Linked DNA regions of Homo sapiens: region 1 is linked to region 2. Evidence: fine-mapped expression QTL. A gene starts in region 2. The other region holds a variant in brackets. All regions are shown on one strand. Distances are between the middles of the regions. Region 1 overlaps ABCC4 (ATP binding cassette subfamily C member 4 (PEL blood group)). Region 2 holds the start of ABCC4 (ATP binding cassette subfamily C member 4 (PEL blood group)).

What was found. PIP is the estimated chance that this variant, and not a neighbour inherited with it, causes the effect.
Region 1: its variant is fine-mapped to the expression of ABCC4 in whole blood (INTERVAL, PIP above 0.99).

Annotation. Positions count from the first base shown.
Region 1 is chr13:95,242,758-95,251,090 of GRCh38, forward strand. It overlaps ABCC4 (ATP binding cassette subfamily C member 4 (PEL blood group)), which reads right to left. Exons shown (of 31, transcript NM_005845.5): 2 at 4,886-4,996; 3 at 4,218-4,338. Among named protein-coding and RNA genes, the nearest start is that of SNORD13G, 37 kb to the left of the region's middle. RefSeq lists an enhancer at 2,216-2,295. The variant C/T (reference allele first, on the strand shown) is at 3,417.
Region 2 is chr13:95,296,395-95,304,727 of GRCh38, forward strand. ABCC4 (ATP binding cassette subfamily C member 4 (PEL blood group)) reads right to left here and starts at 5,057. Exons shown (of 31, transcript NM_005845.5): 1 at 4,847-5,057. The coding sequence starts at 4,920. It overlaps LOC102724149 (a long non-coding RNA gene), which reads left to right and starts at 4,557. Exons shown (of 3, transcript XR_429273.4): 1 at 4,557-4,869; 2 at 5,552-5,932. RefSeq lists enhancers at 230-319, 3,340-3,399, 5,002-5,776 and silencers at 4,593-5,232, 5,263-5,322, 5,503-5,562.

The sequences.
Region 1 (8,333 bases), 54 kb before region 2:
CATCTTAAGAAATTATTTCTCTCCAACTTCTCCAAAACAGCCAAGTGTCAATAGGCAAGGCTGGGAAAACAATAGTATTTATACTAGAATTCAGGCTGTTTTCACTGCTAGAAGGAAAAGAAAAAAAAAAATCCAAGGATTACTTTGAGTTGAACTGGGAAGAGCTTTAGCTCCCTGAACTTCACTGCATCGGAACTAAAAGTTCTACCAGTTATTATGTTAAAGACACAAGGTTAAAATGAGCATCATCCACTAGTCACCATGATCCTCTAAAGAATAACTGACTACTGTCTAATTTTATACCATAAACCACCAAGATATTGGTGTAAACACAGGACCAACAAGTGCTCTCTTGTGAAAAGCCCAGGCTCCACTTTATATGAGAGGTGCCTGCCGCCAGCACTGTGTGGGTCCATCTTAACACCTTAGCCTGCCGCCCTAATACCTGGGGCCCACCTTGCTAGTGGGAGGGTTCAGATACCAGGACAGAAGAGCTGTCCCCATACTAGTGACTCATCTGGGGTCTTCATCCTTGCCAAGCAAACTGCACACCCACTTCACGATTCAGGCCAAAGGCTTCTGAAACTGCAGAGATATCATTGCTATGCAAGAAACCCAGAGCCTTTGATAAGTAAAAACAGGGAACTTGACATCCGCCCAGACCATCAGTCAATGTCGTGACCATGCAAGACCACAAGCTTCCCCCTCGTCCATCCGAGGAGGAGACAACTGGGAATGGTGTCTTAACAGCGTGGATGTTGATGAACTTGGGTCAGCAGGGCTGCACGCCTCACACATGTGGAGGATGGTACTCAGTGGGAGACAGGTTTCTAAAGGGTTCTTGGTCAGCCAGGCACAGTGGCTCACACCTGTAATCCCATTAATTTGGGAGGGCGAGGTGGGCCGATGGCTTGAGCTCAGGAGTTCTAGACCGGCCCGGACAACATGGTAAAACCTCATCTCTACTAAAAATACAAAAAATAAGCCAGGCATGGTGCATGCCTATAGTCACAGCTACTCAGGAGGCTGAGGTGGGAGGATTGCTTGAGCCCAGGGAGATGGAGGTTGCAGTGAGCTGAGATCACACCACTGCACTCCAGCCTGAGTGACAGAGTGAGACCCCACCTCAGACGAAAACATAAAAAAAAAAAAAGAGTTCGTGGTCAACCTGAATGTACCTTGGTGCTCTGACCTGCCCAGCACCCCAGCCACTCTCTAGCATGTCACCTGACTTTCCGGCACCAGGACACCTAGGAACCTAGGGTAATTTATAATCCCCAATCTGATTTCCCACAGCCATGCCCCACTGTTCCAGGGAGCTCTTAGCATCTGACTTATCCCTAGGCCAAGTTCAAGAAGCATGTGCTGGATACTCTGAAGACAGAGTTCTCAAGACACCTTTACGACAGTCTGGAGATGGTTAGGTCCCTAAGTCAGCGCTCCTGAGACTGAATCTGGGCTCTGTCATTTACACTTTGTGTGGCCCTAGGCACATTATATAACTACATGGCACCCAGTGTCCTCTTCCCAAAAGTAGGGTTAAAAGAATGCCTTCTGACTGAGCATGGTGATTCCTGCCTATAATCCCAGCACTTTGAGAGGCCAAGGTGGGAGGATCATTTGAGCCCAGGAGTTCAAGACCAACCTGGGCAACATAGTGAAACAAAAATACAAAAATTAACCAGGCATGGTGGCGTGCACCTGTGGTCCTAGCTACTTGGGAGGACTGCTTGAGCCCAGTAGGCCAAAGCTGCAGTGAGCCAAGATAGCACCACTGCACTCCAGCCTGGCAACAGAGTGAGACCCTATCTCAAAAAACAAAATAAAATAAAATAACATGAAAGAAAGAAAGAAAGAAAGAAAGAAAGAAAGAAAGAAAGAAAGAAAGAAAGAAAGAAAGAAAGAAAGAAAGAAATCATAGCAGTTCCTGGTACATAGTATTTTTCAAGTACTCACTGTCAGTATTATTACAACTATTGCTACTATCACTGCTGCTGCTACTACTACTACTGAGTACCAACCACTACTAATCCTGCTGCTGCTTCTACTAGCACTGCTGCTGCTAAGCAGTACTGAGCATGAGCCCCCATATTTGCCAGGTCCTCCACTCCCTACTTTTCTGCCATGACTGCCCAATAACCACCCCGCTAAAAGACCAGCTCTCCACCAACTGTACCCATATTAAAGCTCCCCTCGATCCGGGCCCCTTCCCACATGCCCACCAGCAGTAAAGATTACCATGCTCCTTGCACCAGAGTGGGGCCTGTCCTCAAGTCTCAGGAGAAATTCACGCTTCTACAGCCTCTACTTCTGTGCCTGCTTCTCCCAAAAGCTTACCCAAATCTCACTGTAGTCCAGTCACCATCTGTGGGTTAGAGACCCCACCCCAAGTGGCTGGCAGCCCATGACAGCATGGACAGCCCTGAGCATGACAAGCTCAGTTCCTTCTAAATCATCCTGTTTTCAATTTCATAAGCAGCTGGTGACAAAGGGAAACTAGAGAAATGGAAGTAGCTGAGGGAGGCATGCCTCGAAACCTATGTGAGGCCATTGATTCCCACTACACCTAACCAGACACCTGGCATGAGCCTTAGACACTTACAGAGGCTCCATGGCTACCAGACAACTTCTCTGAGGTTGCACAGCCAAACTGGGCCAGGAAATCCTGCACACACTGGCCACATTGACACCGACTTGTCATTCTATTTCTTTCCAACTGAAACTGATCGGGGCCATGTGGAAACACTATCGCTGGGACACCCCAGCACAGGTTGAAGAGGGGCTGGGAGAACCTGAGGGGCTCCTAGCCCTCTTCCACCCTCAAGTCAGTTCCACCGGTTATTCTGCATGTCCACCCCATCTGCCACAAAGCCACAGTAGCATGCAGGCAGGGCGGGTACCCTCTCAAAGGTGGCATTCACCATCTGGCACCCTGGCCAAAACACCTTTGTCACCAATGAGACCATTCATCTCCCAGGACCGTCCAGTCCCCTGTTGTCTGACAGATTCCTCTGGTGTAGGGCAGAGCTCACCTACCTGCCTCCCACTGCCCACCGTGCCCTCCACAACAAAAAGCATGTTCAACAGGAGCAAACCCCCCCACATACAAACCAACCCCCTCCCCCCACCCACCTCATTCCCAACAAAATGCACCGTGACAACTCCCCATCCTGCATTTAAAGCCACCCTTTTGTAACAACAGCAACATCCACCCCTCTAACTTTAATGGACCACTGACATCCCTAAGGTAGCACAGAGGACACAAGTCACCCAGCAGGACCCTCTGCATCTCCTCTAGCAGGCCAAAGACCAGAACGGACAAGCTACCTGGCAGTGTGCCTAGGCAGAACACTGTCTTTCTGCAGATCTCAAGAGAGGCCCTTCGGGGTAACAGAGGTTATTGCCCTTCTGGCTGT[C/T]TTTGATTTTTCATGGAATGTCCATTTATACATTCTCTGCAGGGCCAGGCACCAAGACTCTACCTTCCAACCAGCAATCCACTCCGACAACAAGGAAGACACACCGGATGGGTGTGATGAATCCCCTTGGGTGCACAGTCCTCGGACCTTCTTCCCAGAGGGGATTTTGGCTCCCAGCACCTGGGCCCACTGGGAGGGGGTAGCTCTTGGGTGCTTCAGCCAGCTCCAGCCTCTGGGGCACCACCGCCAGCCCAGGTGCAAGGCCCTCAGCTCTGTTTCCCCGAGAGGGGAGAGGTGACAATACCTCTCCAGAAGAGCAATTATCAGATTTGGCTTGGTGAACAATTATTTGTTGAGCACCTGTAAAATGTCTTACATTATTCTGGGCTCCGATCCAAAATCACTTCCTCTAAACCACAGGGCACGCACTCCTCAAGGCTGTAGGATCCTCTTTTGACCAGGAGTGACTCTTAGCATTTAAAACATTTACCGAGCACCAACATTGTCCTACCATAGAATAAAATACTCTTCTTCCATGACACTGCATTTTAATTGGTTACAAGAAAAACAATAATGACCTTGAACTTCAGTCACTTAAGTATTCACCTGGATAAATACGCTCACTGAACTAACTACCTAATACTTCCTAGACATGTTTAATCCTTAGACCTTAAAATACCTTCAAACCCCATCTGGCCACTTCTCCCTTCTGTTCCCCCATCCATTACAGCACCAGTCAATGGCGAGCACATTTACTCTATGTGTCCTGAAAAACAATTCATGGTATGTAAAAGCTTTTACCTCAATTAACGTAAAAATTCCCAAAACTAAATAAGATTTCCAGTAACACTTTATGATTGCTCTTGTTAAAGAAGGCTTCTGTGCGTCATTCTCAGCTCTTAAAACTTCTTTATCCCAGAACCTACAATGAGGAAAAAGCTTCGTAAATAAGAGTGAACCCTGCCACAATATAAAACAGGGGAGATGGCAGAGTGACAGGTATGCATTTAAGACAGGGCATTTTGTGACGATTTCATAAATGCTACTAATTGCTCCCAGGGCTCCTGAAGGTTATGTGTGGTACAGAATCTGGAGCATCAGAAAAACAGGCCTTGAGGGGAAGTCTGGGGAAACAAGTTACTGCCAAGCTTTACTGGATTGAAGCCCCATCAGTAGCACAGATAAGCCAGACAACCTCCTCCAACCACAACACTTCCACCTAGAGGGACAGACCTCAGGCATCTCGGGCCTTTGGTGCTGGCTCCCCTGACCTCTACGGAGGCACAGGCAACAGGAGTTTCCCCCAGGCCACCATGGTAGGCTGAGCCTAGGGGCAGCCTGAGGAAGGTGACACATATTCACCTTAAGGGTAAACGGAGGCTCCAGACAGGACCCAGGAAGGCAAAACCCACTCCCCACACACAGACACCCACGCTTCCTTAATGCCCACTTTACTGCCTCCGACTTACCCTTGCAACTCCTCTCCAAGGTGCTGTGAGCGGTCTTCTGGCAGCACTGAATACATATCATCTTCCTCTAATCTCCGTTTATGGCCAATTTTAAACAAGGGATTGAGCCACCTGTTAACAAGAGAAAAGAGACATATATCCAGAATTACACATCCGTGTTTAAGTAGACTCCTACCTCCATGGGTTTTGCTTAAACTTACCTTTAAAATACATACAGCTATATATAGACAGACAGATATGAATATATAGAGCTAGAGAGAGAAAAGTTAACATGTGCACACACACACACACACACACAGTCCCTAGCTCTATCCACAGACAGGCCCCAGAAGCAATGACACACCAGTAGCTGAGAGCATGCTGGTGCCCAGATCTTGGTTTCCAAAACCATTATTATCTAAAAGGAACCAGAGCTTCCTGAAGAAATAGCTGATTCAAAGGCTGGGGCAGAAAAAGATGGCCCATGAGATACCATACGATAAGGAAACATTCAAGGAATCAAGAGGATGGGCCCAAAGAACAGAGGACCCAGCTTGACGGGGTCCCACTAGACAAGTCTGTGATAATGGAAGCATCCAAATAAATCATGACAGCAATGAATTCTAACCCACTGAATAACAAAAGAATCCACGAATCCTTACTGAGACATAAATGGGGTAAGAAGGAAAAACTCTCAGATAAAGAATGATGAGGTTAGAAAACATTTTCAATGGGAGCTAAAACCAGTCAGTGAAGGTTTGATGGGACATTTACATAATCCAAAATTATCTAGGTACAAATTATTTATTAGTTACGAAAGGACAAAATAGTAATCTTGCAGAGGACAGAAAGAACTTATTCAAATATTTTGAGATTCTTTTTACTAAAAAAAAAGAAAAATCAAAATGGTCATCCATTAGGAATCACTTAAATGATATTAACATTATTAATCATTAAATGATAATAATTAACATCATTAATCATTAAATGATAATAATTAACATGCACCAGGCATAGTGGCTCACACCTGTAACTCCAGAGCTTTGGGAGGCTGAGGAGGGAGAATGGCTTGAGCCCAGGAGTTTGAGACCAGCCTACACAACATAGTGAGATGCCCACTTCTACTAAAAACTTATAAAGAAAAAGGCTGGGCAGTGGCTCATGCCTGTAACCCCAGCACTTTAGGTGGCTGAGGTAGGCGGATCACTTGAGGCCAGAAGCTCGAGACCAGCCCGGCAAAACCCCATCTCTAGTAAGAAAATATAAAAATTAGCGAGGTGTGATGACACATGCCTGTAATCCCAGCTACTCGGGAAGCTGCGGCACAAGAATCACTTGAGCCTGGGAGGCAGAGGTTGCAGTGAGCTGAGATCGATGCCACTGCACTCCAGTCTGGGCAACAGAGTGAGACTATCTCAAAACAATAAAAAATATAAATAATAATTAAAATTTAGCCAGATGTACTGGTGTAAGCCTGTGATCCCAGCTATTCCAGAGGCTGAGGTGGGAGGATGGACTGAGCTCAGGAGGTCAAGGCTGCAGTGAGCTGTGATCGCCACTGCACACCAGCCTGAGCAGAACAGCAAGGCTTTGTCTAAAAAAAAAAAAAAGAAGAAGAAACATATTTGTGCCCTATAAGGAAACCTCTAATAACTTTGATAGATGCAATTACTCAATTACACAAACTTCTTTCATCTTGGCTGTCTTATCTGGCCATGTGTCACCTTTAATAGGCATGTTTTATTTTAACATGGGGATTGTCTAATCTAGGAAGCCCTTCCCATGGGGAACCCACTGCCTGGTGGCTTCTGCCTGCAGTGAAATGGTGGGCTTTCAATGCCCCGTAAGATTGGAGCACACACTGCAGGGGTATCCAAGTTATGTTCAGGATTCCGGAAACCTCCTGCTGATCCAAACTAGCAATTCTAATTAACCCAATGGCAAGAAGAACTCATCAACTCACCTCTTTCTCCTCACCTCCTCCAAAATGTGTCCAGAAGACTGTAACCTAACCAGTCCAGCTTCAACTTAGGTGGGTTTCCCAGACATGCCTGAGATGACCTCTGCATGCCCGAGACCTCCCTTCCAGCAGAACCTCATACAGTATATTTCAGCAAGGACTTCTAAGTAAAATTCACTGGTGTCTTTTTGGACTAAAGAGGTTTTTTTAATCAGGGAATAAAACTGGCTCCAGGAAGTTAAAAAATTAAGGAAAGTGAGAATGGTAACTCTGTTCCACAGGCTGAACAGTTAACTGCATAACATTTAGAAATATTAACAAGGAGGGATGCCACTGTTGAGTTAAAGTATCTGCAATCAGAAGAGACCCAAAGCTTCTATTAGAGGATGACACAAATCAGTAAGGACTTAACAAGGACCCTCCTACTCTCTCTCATTGCCCAGATCTCAAAAAGCTGGGCTGAAAAGATGTGGGTACCAGCAAGAGCTAAAGGCTTTTGCCTGATGACAAAAGTCAACTTTGACAAGAGACTAAATTATCTTTGACCATCTATGTAAGGACTTTATACATGGAAATCTAAGTCAGTTGGCTCCTTAATACCAATGTGTCCCTGAGGGGGTCTAGTCAACAATTCCAGACCACTGCCAAATGAGCCATTCCTCCACCCAGTTCTGCCCCAGTAGCCCTTCTCTCCTCAGACTTAGTCTCTTCTCCCCCTTATCTCCCACAATACTTAGTACAGCAGCATCGCTTCCCTCCTAACTGTCCTACTAGGAGTACAATGCTTTCAGGGCAATGACTACTGCCATATTATTTGGAATCCCCATTATGCCTGGTATGTGATAGATACTCAATAAACAGTTATGGAAAGAATGAATGATTGTATTATTGAATAAGACAGATGGGTAGAGTACCTTGAGCAATGATCTAGGGTAAAATTCAATACAAACTCAATATAGCATAGTCGTGCTCAATGCCCAACACAGGAAGCCATCAGCTTCAGCAATACAGAGACATTCTCCACCCCAGGATCACAACCCCCAGCATCATTTCCAGCAAGCAGGAGTCTTAGACAAGGGTTAGTAGAGAGTTTTGTTATTTATTGTTGGTGGTGGTGGCATTTAGTTTTTGTTGTTTTTTCCCCCAAGGATTTGAGAAGTTCTGAATACTGGTTTCTTTTTTTTTTTTTTTTTTTTTTTTTGAGATGGAGTCTCACTCTGTTGCCCAGGCTGGATGGAGTACAGTGGAGCGATCAGAGCTCACTCAGATCCGATCAGAGCTCAGCAGTCTCAAACTTCTGAATTCAAGCAATCCTCCCACCTCTACCTCCCAAGTAGCTAGGAGTACAGGCACATGCCACTGTGCCTGGCTAATATTTTTATTTTTGATAGAGACCAGGTCTCTCTATGTTGCCCAGGCTGGTATCGAACTCCTGGGCTCAAGTGATCCTCCCACTTTGGCCTCCCAAAATTCTGGGATTACAGGCATGAGCCACCAAGCTTGGCCAAT
Region 2 (8,333 bases):
CACACCCTTCCTCTCTAAGCCATCCCCTGCCCTCAGCCACTTGTGTTTGCTTCTATAGTCATGTCATCAGCTCTCTAGGGCAGGTCTCCAGAGAGTCTGTCTGGTCACCAGTGGCAGTTTCCACAGCAGCACAGGCTTTGCAAGATGACACTTCACCCACTGAGATATGGCCAGCAACAGGGGAGCAAGGATTTAACCACTTTCTGTGGGCCAGATGCATCTGGAGATCCCTCTCAATGCCCATATTTAGGGAAAAGTCCTTCGTTGTTAGCCTCCACCCTGCTGCTGACCCCAGATCACCTCTGGATCAGGTGTGGGCAGAGGAATGCAAAGTGCCTGCCGGGCACCAGGGGGCAGCAGGACAATTCCTAGGAGAGTCTCAGGGATTGACCCATCTTGTGCCCAGCTGGCCACAGTTCATAGGCTATGCCACTTATTTCCACTAACGGGAAAGAGGAGGAATTATTCAATAAATGATAATGGGGAAAACGAGCTGTTTGGGGAAAAAATGGGGACTATCTCATATCAAATACCAAAAGAAATTCTAGCTGCCTTTATTGTTAGAAATGAAACAATAGCTAAAAGAAAATGGAAGGCCAGGCACAGTGGCTCACACCTGTAATCCCAGCACTTTGGGAGGCCGATGCAGGTGTATCACCTGAGGTCAGGAGTTCGAGACCAGCCTGGCCAACATGGTGAAACCCTGTCTCTACTAAAAACATGAAAATTAGCCAGGTATGGTGGTGGGCACTTGTAATCCCAGCTACTTGGGAGTCTGAAGCAGGAGAATCACTTGAACCCTGGAGGCGGAGGTTGCAGTGAGCCGAGATCACACCACGGCCAGCCTGGCAACAGAGCTAAAACTCTGTCTCATAAAAAAAAAAAAGAAAGAAAAAAGAAAGAAATAGGTGAAAATACTACCTTTAAAAATCCACAATTGCCAACAGCCATAATGCATGACTCCTTTTAGACTCCAAGTCCAAATTATGCTATAAATACACCAAAATCCCGGGAAAATACTTTGAATAAAAGTCAGTAAGCCAGTTATTGGCATCATTTAGGTAGGCAGCTGCCAGTTCACAAGTTCAGAAAGCAGATGATATTTGAGAAGAAAAGCAAACACTCAACAAGAAGGTGAAAAAGCAGTTTTTCCCTACAAGGTGGGCCCTGTCTCCAGGCAGCCACTTCCTGGATGGGCTCATTTCAGCTTTCCACTGGCAGTGGGAAGGGTACACAAATACTGACCTAAAAGCAGGAGGCTAAGGCACAAAATATAACTCAAGAATTTACTACAGACCCAGTGTGGTGGTTCATGCCTGTAATCCCAGCACTTTGGGAGGCCGAGGCAGGCAGATCGCTGGAGCTCAAACTCCTGAGCTGTGGATTACAGTGTCCTTGGGGCACTGTTAGGTTAATCTGTAGCTATGTGGCAATATGAAGTACTTTCGAGTGATAAGTAAATAGCTCAAGGGGGTGGGAACTACGAGGTGACTGCTGTGTCATTTTAATGTCTCTCTGGGCCTGATAATTTAAAAGGACTCCGCATTCCTCAGATGATGATTATTATTATTTTCTCACTATGAGGCCTCAGACTTTAAAATCCCTCAAACTGGCCCAGGCACAGTGGCTCATGCCTGTAATCCCAGCATTTTTGGAGGCCAAGGCGGGCAGATCACCTGAGGTCAGGAGTTCAAGACCAGCCTGGCCAACATGGTGCAACCCCATCTCTACCAAAAATACAAAAATTAGCTGGGTGTGAGGGTGCACGCCTATAGTCCCAGCTACTTGAGAGACTGGGGCAGGAGAATCACTTGAACCCAGGAGGCAGAGGTTGCAGTGAGCAGAGATTGCACCACTGCACTCCAGCCTGGGTGACAGAGCTGAGCAACAGAGAAAGACTCCGTCTCAAAAAAAAGAAATAAAGAAATTTTAACAATTAAAAATAAAGAAAAGCATAATACTGTAATAATACTCCAATGAAAGGAGTAGCTGGAAGCAGTAAGCGCCTCAAATCAGGATCACCTGGAGCACTTGAAACCTCACCACCCCCACCCACACACCCAGTGTTTCCAGTTTTACTGAATCAGTCCAGAGTGGATGCTGGAGAATCTGCATCTCTTAGAATCTCCCAAGTGATGCCGATGCTGCTGCTCTGAGTGCTATGCTTTGAGAACAGCTGCCCTAAAGCACACTAATAGTTGTTACACATGCATCATCTCCAACTGCAGGTACTTTAAGAATTTCCCTTGAGAAACTCTAGCCTTCCAGAACAGGGAGCGCCTTCTCCATGCATTTCCGACAGCACCTGAACTGGAAGCAGCTCAGTACAGCAGCTCCAAAGAGGCTGGGGAGCCAGTCTGCCCAGCTTTGGAGCCTGCTCTGACACTTGATTGTTGTGTGAGTCCAGGCAACTTAACCACTCTCAGCTTAAGTGTCCTCGGAGTAAAACAGAGGTCTACTAGCTCCTTCCCTTCCATCAGGGAAACCGGAAATGAACACCTACTCAAGTCATCAATGGGAGCGCATCACTTCCTATTTCCCTGCCACCTACATTTTGAAAATGCAGGGGGAGAAAAATATAAGGAGGCAGGAGTCACATCTGTAATCCCAGACTTTGGGTGGCCGAAGCGGGAGGAACACTTGAGCCCAGGAGTTCAAGACCAGCCTGAGCAACAACATAGAGAGCCCTATCTCTACAAAAAAAATTTTTTTTTATTATCCGGGCATGGTGACACACACCTGGAGCCCCAGCTACTCGGGAGGCTGAGGCAGGAGGATTGCTTCGGCCCAGGAGTTGGAGGCTGCAGCAAGCTATGAATGTGTCACTGCCCTCCAGCCTGGGTCACAGCTTGCACAAAGCAAGATCCTGTCTCAAAAAAAAAAAAAAAAAGTTCCTTGCCCTGCCTGAAGTTGAGGAGACCATTTGTCTACCTCAAGTTATTATTTGCAGAAACCACACCCATATTCCTTCCTCCTCCACGTGCCCCTCTCCTTAAGAGAAAGGCCGCCAAACAACCAAGAGAAGTTCCTACACCCACTGAGTGTACCACAATCGAAACAAGAGTAAGCGACTCATCCTCTTGGAATCCCCTAGGTCAAGCTTGTCCAACCTGAGGCCCATGGGCTGCCAAATTCGTAAGCTTTCTTAAAACATCAGATTTTTTTTTGCGATTTTTTTTTAGCTCATCAGCTATCATTAGTGTTAGTGTATGATTAGTGTTAGTGTATTTTATGTATGGCCCAAGACAATTCTTCCAGTGTGGCCCAGGGAACCCAAAAAATTGGAGACCCCCACCCTAGGTTGTCCCATAATAAAAGGCAATATCAACATGTGGGAAAGATGAGGCGGCAGAGGTCAAGAAACAGAAGATCTAATAATCATCCAAGTGAGATTGAAGCCCTTCAAAGGTTCAGGCTTATGTAGTTAGCAGACGGAATTCCCCCACACACACCCGCCACTCCCCCAAGACGGAGTCTCACTCTGTCACCCAGGCTGGAGTACAGTGGGGCGATCTCAGCTCACTGCAACCTCCGCCTACTGGGTTCAAGCAATTCCCCTGCCTCAGCCTCCTGAGTAGCTGGGATTACAGGCGTGCTCCACCACACCCGGCTAATTTTTGTATTTTTAGTAGAGACGGGGTTTCACCATGTCAGCCAGGCTGGTCTCGAACTCCTGACCTCGTGATCCACCCACCTCTGCCTCCCAAAGTGCAGGGATACAGGCGTGAGCCACCGCGCCAGGCCAAGATGGAAATTTTAGTTACTACTGTCACCCGAGTCTTTCTCCGTTTGTTTCCTTGCACAAAATGGGTAGGGCTGTGGGCCCTCCCAGCTCAGGAGCCCTGGGGTGGTTTTAAGAAGGTAGAACTCCTGGTAGGAACCACCTGCATCAAGACCATGGATCACCTCTCTGAAGGTTAGCGATTCCAGGGACCCCACCTCCGAGCTGTCCTCCTACGTGGAAGTGAAAGTATTGGAAACAGGGGAAAGAAGCTGGTCAAAGACAGACTCCAGTCGTGGCGGTGCATGTCCCAGTTAAAAGCAAATCCTGGAAAATCTTGTTCAAGAACAGGGTCCCCATTCATAAATGAAAAATAATAATAGTGTTATTTTACCCACATGAAACTTGCCATAACTAGGTACCACGACCCACATGGACACACAGTGAGATTCCCACAAAGAGGCAAAAGGAGAGCCCTGGTCACTGAGACAAAAGATACAGAGACACCGGGACACAGAGAGGTACAACGGGACGTGGAGTTGGATCGAGCTGTCTCGTAAGGAATATCGGAAGGGGTGGGGACACTACTGGGAGATGGCATAGGTCCAGGACACTAATTAGGCTTTGGCTGAGATCAGATAAAGGAAACTGTTCGTAAGCTGCTTACTTAAAAAGAAAGGAAAAGGTGCGTTTGAGTTCAGGAGACTGCGAGTCCCAGAGCAGGAGGCGGGAGCCAGCGAAGGGTGGGCGTGTAAGGGGTGCAGTCGCTTCTCCCGCTGGGCAAGAGACTCCCCCTTTCGGCAGCCTGGGTTCCCCGCCTCCCCACCTCCTGCTCCTCCTCCCCCGAGCCCTAAGGGCCCGCAGGGCCTCCAGTAGCAAAGCCACTGGCCCCGCGTCCCCGCGTCCCCCTGCGCCGCGCCCCGGGGCGCAGGCAGGGACCACGCGGCCGGCGTGGGGGCGGCGCCACCCGCAGCAGAAAGCCCCGGCGTGGACCGCGTGGCGTAGGAAAGCGCTCCCCTCGCCCCCAGCCGCAGAGGGCTTGGGCAGCATCGGGCGCGGCCCCGGGAGAGTGCGTCCGCGGCGCCAGCGGCTGCAGGGTGACCTGTTTCGGGCGGGGACACTCACCAGAAGAACACGCGTGAGCAGAGGTTCGCGTCCTGCAGCGGGTTGGGCTTCACCTCCTGGTACACGGGCAGCATCTTGCCGGGCGGGGCGGGCGCGGGCCGGGGTCGCGCTGATCAGGCGGCGGTGGCCGCGGGCTCCGCTCCTGGACCTCAAGCAGGGATGCTGGGGCTCCGGCCGCCACGCCTGTCCGCTCGGCTGGAGCCTGTGAAGCAGCCGCTTCCGGGAGCCGGGCGCCGGCGGCACGCCCCGTCCCCGCCTCTCAGGCCCGCCGCCTCGGGGGCGCCCGCTACGCGCCGCCGCCTGGAGCCCGGGAGCTGCGCACCGCGTGCGAGCGCGGCCGGGACCGACGGGTGACGCGGCGGGAGGAGACGCGGCGGGAGGAGGCGAAGCTGGCGACGCCAAAGGGAGCCCAGAGCTACGCCCAGGGGTGAGGCGAGGGCCGCCTGCGCCGCTGGATGGAGAGGGTAGCAGAGCGCGCGGCAAGGAGGCCGGGTCCGGAGGTGCCCACGTGCACGAACCCGAGTGAAACTTTCCGAAATTCACTATCCGAGTCTAGGCGCCGACACAGAAGGTGGAGCAGGGAGGCGTCGGCTGTGCCCGCCCCTGCGCCGCAGAAACGCCCCCTCGGCTACGGGTTTGGGAAGACTGGGAGACAGCTGCCTCGTGCTCTAGCAGCCCGCCCCCTGGGCGCCTTTCCCTTCTCAGGACCAAACGACGGTGCCATGGGAGGCTCTTCAACCTGTGAGCCAAACATTTGACCTTGGACGACAGCAAAGTTTAGCCACAGATTATCCTTGTAGAGCTGCAAGACCTCAAGAAAGCCGGGTAACTCGAGAGTATGACCCAGATGAATTCGGGAGATGGATGAATGCTGTCGTCGATGGGGGCGGGCTTTAGGCATCTCACATGTTGCATGCTACGGTGGACCTCTGAGCTTTTTGCTGCCCCCTTAGATTGGGAAAGGAATATAAGAGGAAAGAGAGACTGCCTGATGATTTCTGTCGTCAAGCCCTAAAGCCTAACAGATAACAGTGGCAAACGACACGTGGGTTCCAGAATACCAGTGATGTTCATGTGCATTTCTGAGTGCGTAGCCTCACTAGTGTGTGTGTGTGTGTGTGTGTGTGGCAGTCTCACACACAGTGTCACGATTATGGCTCATTGCACCCTCGACCTCCCAGGGCTCAAGCAATCCTCCCAACTCAGTTTAAGTAGCTAGGACTACAGGCACCCGCCACCACACCCGGCTCATATTTTGTAATTTTTGTAGAGATGCAAAAATCAAAATCAAAGGCTCCAAGTTCAAATACTGATAATTTTTGAAGCCAAATGATTGTCATGGAGGTTTATTTTCTTCATATTTCATGCATGTTTGAGAATTTGGTTTTCTTTGTAATAAGATCATTTTATTGTTCCTTGATAATTTCTCACTTTGTTGCCCAGGCTGGTCTCAAACTCCTAGGCTCAAGTGATCCTCCCACCGTGGCCTCCCAAAGTGCTAGGATTACAGGCATGTACCACCACGCCCGACCAATTATCTCACTTTTAATTCTATCAGTGCCCCATTCAAGGTTATCCTTACTTTATAGATGAGGAAGGTGAAGCTGAAAGGCAGAACTTGTCCAGTCTTAGAGCCAAGAAAGGATAAAACATGATTTGCAATAAGCCTATGTCTAAGCATGGCCTGTCTCCCTGGTGGATGGCCAGTGTGCATGAGAAGTGCCCAGAATATGCTGGTTGAATGGCTGTAGGAATGAATGAACAAAATCTTGTTCCAAGCTTGTGTACTCCCACCTCTAAGTCTTCAGTCATTTCTGTGGCTACCTTAACAAGGTCAGCAGCTGCTCTTCATATCCACCCTGAATGAAAAAAAATGAAAGGCTCCAAGTTCATGGTGCTTGGAACAAGATCATTTTATTGTTCCTTGATAATTTCCCATGTATATTTGCTAAAATAGTATAGTTAATAGCTTTTAAAGAAAGCCTTACACAAACACATATTTAAAAGTCAAGCACAGGCTAGCCAGCATAGTGAGGCTCTGTCTCTACCAAAAGTTTTAAAAATTAGCCCAGGTGTGGTGGCGTACCCTTGTAGTCCCAGCTACTCGAGAGGCTGAGACAGGAGGATGGCTTTAGCCCAGGAGTTCCAGGCTACAAGGAGTTAAGAAGGTGCCCACTGGGCTGGGCACAATGGCTCACGCCTATAATCCTAGCACTCTGGGAGGCTGAGGCAGGTGAATCACCTGACGTCAGGAGTTCGAGACCAGCCTGGCCAACATGGTGAAACCCCATCTCTACTAAAAATACAAAAAATTATCTGGGTGTGGTGGTGGATGCCTGTAATCCCAGCTACTCAGGAACCTCAGGCAGAAGAATCACTTGAACCCAGGAGGCGGAGGTTGCAGTGAGCCGAGATCATCCCACTGCACTCCAGCTTGGCAACAAGAGTGAAACTCCGTCTCAAAAAAAAAAAGAAGGTGCCACTGCACTCCAGGCTGTACAAGCCCATAATCCCAGCACTTTGAGAGGTGGAGACAGGAGGATTGCTTTAGCCCGGGAGTTCTAGACCAGCCTGGGCAACATAGGGAGACCTCATCTCCACTAAAAATGTGAAAATTAGATGGGCATGGTGGAGTAAGTCTGTAGTCCCATGTAACCTGGAGGCTCAGGTGGGAGGATTGCTTGAGCCCAGGAGTTCTAGACCAGCCTGGGCAACAAAGGGAGACCTCATCTCTACTAAAAATGTAAAAATATGATGGGTGTGGTGGCGTGAGTCTGTAGTCCCAGCTGGAGGTTCAGGTGGGAGGATTGCTTAAGCCCAGGAGTTGGAGGCTACAGTAGGCTATGATCACACCACTGCCCTCCAGCCTGGGCTAAAGAGTGAGACTCTGTCTCAAAAAAAAAAAAAGTCAAGCACATAAGAATGGCAAAATATTGATAATTTTTGAAGCCAAATGATGTGTCATAGGGGTTTATTTTCTTACATTTCATGCATGTTTGAGAATGGTTTTCTTTTTGGAGATGGGCTCTCAGTATGTTGCCCAGGCTGGACTCAAGCTGCTGGGCCCAAGGGATCCTCCTGCCTCAACCCCTCCAAGTACCTGGGATTGTAGGCACTCGCCAGCATACCAGCTCATGTTTCAGAATTTCTGTCACAAAAAGGAACACAATATTTTAAGTTGACTACTGTGGGAAAGCTATGATCATTCAATAACCTACCTTTCTGATAGCTCTTTCTCAGATAATATAAGCTATAAACCAAAATAGTCAGCCTTCACCTGATTTACAGTGCCCTTTGAAACTTCCTAAGTTTTCTAGCCCAGTAAATGCTGAGCTACCAGTTCTACTTCCAAGCTAGAGAACCTGTTTACTAAAGTTAGAAGTCTAGTGACTTCCTCTGTCAGACTGTCCCAGAATGCTCTCCCTACCCCCAACAACTGTGTAAGAACCGTCATTAGCCATCTCCAAATTGCCAAAGTGCTCAGTCC